Regions from separate parts of the Homo sapiens genome. Here region 1 is linked to region 2. Evidence: fine-mapped expression QTL. A gene starts in region 2. The other region holds a variant in brackets. All regions are shown on one strand. Distances are from middle to middle. Region 1 has its middle 4.3 kb from the start of B3GALT6. Region 2 holds the start of TNFRSF4 (TNF receptor superfamily member 4).

The links. PIP is the estimated chance that this variant, and not a neighbour inherited with it, causes the effect.
Region 1: its variant is fine-mapped to the expression of TNFRSF4 in whole blood (TOPMed, PIP above 0.99).

What each region holds. Positions count from the first base shown.
Region 1 is chr1:1,235,100-1,237,991 of GRCh38, forward strand. No RefSeq gene overlaps it. Among named protein-coding and RNA genes, the nearest start is that of B3GALT6, 4.3 kb to the left of the region's middle. The variant A/G (reference allele first, on the strand shown) is at 1,204.
Region 2 is chr1:1,212,904-1,215,791 of GRCh38, forward strand. TNFRSF4 (TNF receptor superfamily member 4) reads right to left here and starts at 1,250. Exons shown (of 7, transcript NM_003327.4): 1 at 1,080-1,250; 2 at 760-882; 3 at 89-190. The coding sequence starts at 1,224. RefSeq lists a silencer at 328-377.

The sequences.
Region 1 (2,892 bases), 22 kb after region 2:
TGGGCTGAAGGCTGGGCCTCGGGAGGGCTGGGGGCTTCCAGAGCCGGGGCAGCTGCAGCTCTCTCTGGTCTCACCTGGAACTTGCCCTGTAGATCCTCCCTGCCCTGCGGCTCCAATCGACCGTGCACGGGCCGTGGCATCCGTCCCCCAGGCGTCCTTCCCTGGTCTTAGCTTGTACAGCTCCCCACCCACCCAGGTACTCGGTTCCCGGAGACCAGGGCCAAACCAGGAGGCCCTCGGGAGATGGGGGGTCACCGAATTCATTTCCATGTGGGAACTTGGGATACAAAACAGCCAACTCTTCCTCAGCCACACGGATGTTTCTCCTCTAGTGGCCCCGAGAACCTACCATGGAGGGGACAGTGTCAGGGCTGGACGGGCACGGCGCAGCCACACGCACACAGCCCCCAGGAGGCACAGGGCCGGCAGGGAATGCAGGTCAAGCCAAGAGGATGGGCTCTGGTCCCTTCAGGATCCCCCAGGAGGAGAGCACCCCCTTCTGCCCTCTTCCTGGGGACTATGGTCCTGCCTCTCTGCCCCCTGAGGCTGGCATGCAGGCACCTGACGTTGGCTCCAGCTCTCTGGGCCAGCCCTGGGTACCCGCCGGGCCTGTGGCCTGGTTGGTCACCCCCAAGATGCAAAGTGCTACCTGCATCCGGAGGCACCCCCGCCCCTGAGGCCTCCAGGTTCCCACCTGCCCACCTGTGTCTGGCTGGGATCCTGGCTGTCAAGGCTCCTGTTACGGGACTGAACTGTGCCCCCTAAAAGATATTCCAAGCCCTAACCCAGCAGCTACAAACTGACCTTGTCTGGAAGTCGGGTCTCTGCAGGTGGAATTGCGTTAAGGCAAGGTCCTGAGGTGGCCTTACTCCCACGGAACTGGTGTCCTTACCAGAAAAGACCTGGGAAAAAGCCACTGTGTGGCTAGAGACTGACACCCAGGCGATGCCTCTGCAGGCCAAGGATTGAGGACCCTCCACCCCCACCCCACCAGGCAAGGAAGGGCTCTACCCAGAGTCAGGAGCGTGGCCTCCAGGGCTGCGAGGGAAGACGCCCCGTCCAGCAGCCCCAGGATGCCAGCCCAGTTCCCTGTGCCCGGCGCTCTTCGGTGCAGACGCAGGCAGGGGCTCCTGCAACCTTGTGGCATCACAGACGCCCAGCACTGACTGGGCCCAGATCTCCTCCCCGCAGGGCTCAGCACAC[A/G]CCCTGTTCCCGGCAGGCCTCCATCAGTCCAGCCTGCAGCAGGGCTGCCCCCGCGGCCTGGGTCACCCCAGACTCTTCCACCCTCTCCCTGGCTGACTGTCCCAGCTCAGAGTCCTCAGGTCTAAGGGGGTCACGGCCCTCCTGTGGCCCCACCGGCCCCAGGCTCCCCAGCTGTGGCACTGTGAGACCAGCTGACGTTGCAGGAATGGAAGCCCCAGCGGCCCAGACGGCTTGGGGAGTCCTCGGGAGCAGGTGGCCAGAGACAGGTGCGTGCCAGGCCCTCCGCACCCAGAGCGGGGCCGGGAGGAGAGAGGAGGCCCCTTGTTCGCGCAAGGCCCTGCTTCCTGGGCCCACAGCAGCCTGTCAGAAGTTTCCAGCTCCTTGGACTGGCTGTGTGGGGCCTGCTCCCTGGTTTCAGGGGCCTGGGAAGGGCTTGGCGCTTTTTCCTGGTTTCCTACTCTGAGGTGAGCTGGCGTCTCCCTCTCCCACTGTGGGCTGAGGGGAAAGACCTCTGTGTCCATCCCACAGGCCTGGCCAATCTCTGGGGTCCTCAAAGAGGAGGCTTTTGAGGGGGCACAGCCCAAACCCCTGGGCCTCCCCTTGAGGTCTCCTCCCAGCCCCCACCCAGAGGACCTTCCCACAGCCTTGGGAGCTGAAACCCAGGCCACCCCATCAAGTTGGCCTCTGTGGGTGTACACACTCCTTTCCCTCAGGGCCAGGGTGGGTCCCCACCCCCAGCACTCACAGCCCCTCCTTCTCTGGCCTCCCTGCCCTCCGCACCCTCCCTGCTAGATGCTGGTGCCGCTAGCCCTGCCCTGATGGCCACACTGCACCACGCTGGCCAGGTCAGAACCACCCGAGGAGAAGAACCAAGATCTGGCCCCACCCTGTCCTCCTCGGAAGGTCTCTCTGGGGCCCACCCCCTCCTCCCTCCCCAAGGATCTGAGCCTCCCTCACCGAGGTTCCCAGTGGAGGTAGACAGTGGATGAGTGATCCCAGGAGAGCTGGCTGCAGCCAAGGGGCTGAAGGGAGGTGGAGGCGGGAGGGGCAGGAAGGAGGATCTGGAAGGCCCCAGGCGCTCCCCACCCATCCAGCCTCGGCCTCTGTCCTGGTCGCGTTGCCCAGCGAGGCCTCTCCTTGGGCTGGGGCTCGGGTACTCTGCCCTGGTCGGGGCCACAGATGCCGCAAAGTCCCCTCAACTCAGCTAGCCAGGGTGCAAGACCGCGCCCACAGCTGAGAAGCCAGGGGTTACGAGTGTGGCCCTGCCAGGACCTCCTCAGCTGCATCCTCCAGAGTAAACACAGGTGGCCGCAGATCTTCCAGGGCCGGCCGGGCAGGCAGGACAGGAGCCCAGGAGGGCCGCAGTCCAGCTCCCCTCCCCGCTGACCCAGGGCCGGACCCAGCCCGGTGACTGGAGCAGAAGGAAACCCAAGCCCCAGGCCCTCCCTCCGGTGGCATCCGAAGGTCTCAGCGGCCCCAGCCTCCCCCAGGGGCCCCGCACCCGCCACCGCCCACCTCAGACCGGAGAGAGAGTGAGGGATGGGCAGAGCCAGGCCCAAGTCCCCGCCGGGGCGACGGTCACGGTGCCTCACCCTCAACCGCCTCACCCAGACCTTCCGACCCAGGAACAGCTGAACTCAGCCTAAAAAGCACCCGTCCCGAGGGCCTGAGTCCGGCCGTGGTGCCTCC
Region 2 (2,888 bases):
GGCCAGGTCCCTGCGGCCCACGGCCCATCTGCGTCACAGACAGCCGCTATGCACACCCCCAACCGCCGGCCGCAGCCACCGAGCTCACCAACTCCAGGCTTGTAGCTGTCCAGGGGCTGGGTGCCCGCCCGGCAGCGGCAGACTGTGTCCTGTGTGGCCGTGCACAGCTGCTTCCGCTCACTCCCACTTCCTGAGCAGGGGCCGGATGGGGGGGTGGTCAGGTGGGGGCTGTGGACAGGGTCCTCAGGAAGCGTGGGCACTGGAGGACAGGTTGGCCTCCCCACCACACAGAGGGCCGTGGGCAGGGGTCTGCGGCCTCCCCTGAGACTTGGAGCCCCTGCAGCCCCCGAGGCTCCTGGGCCCTCCCTTCCTGGCCACAACCTGGGGCTGGTTCCGTGGCAGCCCCAGCCACCCTTCCCTACCCCTCCACCGCCTCCAGCCGCCAGCCCCGCCTGCGGCAGGGTCTCCATGGCCCAACCCCCCAGCCTCACTGCTCAGGCCAGCAAGGCCAGGCCACATGGCCAGCGTGGTCTCCCCGACTCCACGTGGCCTGGGCCGAGTCTGGGCCCCCGGAGGGAGAGGGGGTGCCCCTGGGAGACGCCTCAGCTCCTCGAAGGACCCCTGTGGCGGAGCAGACCCCGCTGTGGTTTGAGGTTCGTTTCTGCGGCTGTGGGAGCCCCATGCTGCTGCGTGGGAATGTGGGTGCCAGGCTGCCGCCCCCTGTGCTGGGTGGGGCTGTGGGGCCAGGTGGGAGCTCACTGAGGTTACACCACGTGCAGGGCTTGCACGGCTTGGAGCTGACCACGTCGTTGTAGAAGCCCGGCCCGCACGGACGGCACACCGTGTTCTGGGAGCGGCTGCAGCGGCTCACCATCCCGTTGCCTGCAGCAGAGGCCGGCGTCAGGCAGCGGTCAGGCCCCAGGCTTGCGCCCGTGGACCCCCCCAGGCGGCTCCTCTGCCAGGCTTGGCCGGCCCCTCACCCGCCCCCTCCCCAGGACCAGCCTCCTGGCTGGCCCATCCCTGCCCCAGCCCCCAGTCCCTGGAGTGCCCGTGCGTGGCGACCCCTCCTGAGGCCTCACCTGGCCTGCACTCGTGGCAGCACCGGTCGTTGCTGGGGTAGGTGTCCCCGACACAGTGGAGCCCCGTCACGGTGCTCAGCCCCAGGCCCAGGAGGAGCAGAGCCGCACACGGCCCGCGGCCCAGCCGCCGAGCCCCCACGCACATCCTCGTCTCTGCTGTCGCCAGAGTCTGGGTTTTCCTTGCGGGGTGTGGCTATAAGGACTGTGGAGGAGGGGAGGGGAGAGGGGAGGAGGGCAGAGGAGGCGGGAGGAGGAAGGTGGCAGGCCGGGGACCCTGGCTGTGGGCTGGGCACAAAGGCGGGGTCTGGGCACCCCCAGCATTGGCTTATTCTGCCTTCTGACCTCTTCTGCCCAAGACCACCGTGTTCAGACCCCAGGGCACAGTAGGGCCTGGCCTGCGGCTCGACCCTCAGCAAAAAGGTCCATGGAGCACGTGGGTAAACTGAGGCAGCACTGAGTCAGGAGAGGCAACTCCTCAGTCTGGACCTTCAGGGCTGTGGCACTGCTGAAGCATGGTCCCCCTTGTATGCCCAAGACTAGCTCTGAGCAGCAGTGACCACAGCCATGGTAAGACAGACACCCATGGCCAGGCACGGTGGCTCCCGCCTGTAATCCCAGCACTTTGGGAGGCCAAGGCGGGTGGATCACCTGAGGTCAGGAGTTCAAGACCAGTCTGGCTAACATGGCGAAATCCCGTCTCTACTAAAACTACAAAAATTATTCGGGCGTGGTGGCGGGCGCCGGTAATCCCAGCTAGTCAGGAGGCTGAGGTAGCAGAATCACTCGAACCCAGGAGACAGAAGTTGCAAAGCAGAGGTGGCGCCACTGCACTCCAGCCTGGGCGACAGGGCGAGACTCATCTCAAAAAAAAAAAAAAAGACACCCGTGACCACAGCCCACGCTGAGTGTGCCTGAGCACGGCAGGTGTCTATGGCTGAACTGTGCCCCTTAAATTCCTGCGTGGAAGCCCTAACCCCCATGTGGCAGTGTTTGGAGACAGGCCTCTGAGGAGGTGGTGAGGGTGGGTCCTGGATGGCCTGGCGCACACGGGCACGCAGGCAGGTTTCCACCTTCTATGCAAACAGTTCTCAGGTTCCAGGTTTGCCCAGAGGATGCGAACTGCCCGGAGAGCTGGGGAGCAGGTGCGGGGCTGGGGGCTCCCTGGGCCCTTTCTGCACCTTTCAAATAACTGTGACCAGCCTGTGATTATCCAAAAGTTCATTTTTGAAGTTGCAAGTGGAGAGGGGCCTCTAGGAACAGAGCAGCAGGGAAGGGGCTGGAAATCCCCTCCTCCCAGGAGCACAGGAAACAGCTGCCTGTCCTCGGCCCACCCGTGGGGAAATTCCCAGCCGTGGAGCCCGCTGGCCCTGGAGAGGGAGGGAGTGGAGGGAGAGGCCACCCGCCCTCGGACTGAGGGTCCCTAAGTTGGTCACCCTCCCCACGTCCCCACAAGTAGAGAGGACCCTGGAAGGGCTCAGAGCATCCCAGACAGTGTGTGTACCTGCATGTGCACACCCCAACCCAGGTGGGCAGAGGAGGAAAGTTCTGGCATTTTGTGGAAGGTTCCACCCAGCGTTCACAAGGGTTTCCCACTGACAGTGAGAAAAAGCTTACATTTGCAATTGGTTCCTTGGAGGTTCAGGTGAACTGGGGGTCTTGGTGGGCAACACTGCTCTCCTGGGGCCTAAGTGGCCACATCTGCCCACAGGTGCAGTGAGTGGGGCCCGTGCACCATGGAGAGGGCACCCCCAGCATATTGCTGGCAACTGCAATGGCCCCAGGATGGGGCACGGCCCCTCCTGCTTGAAG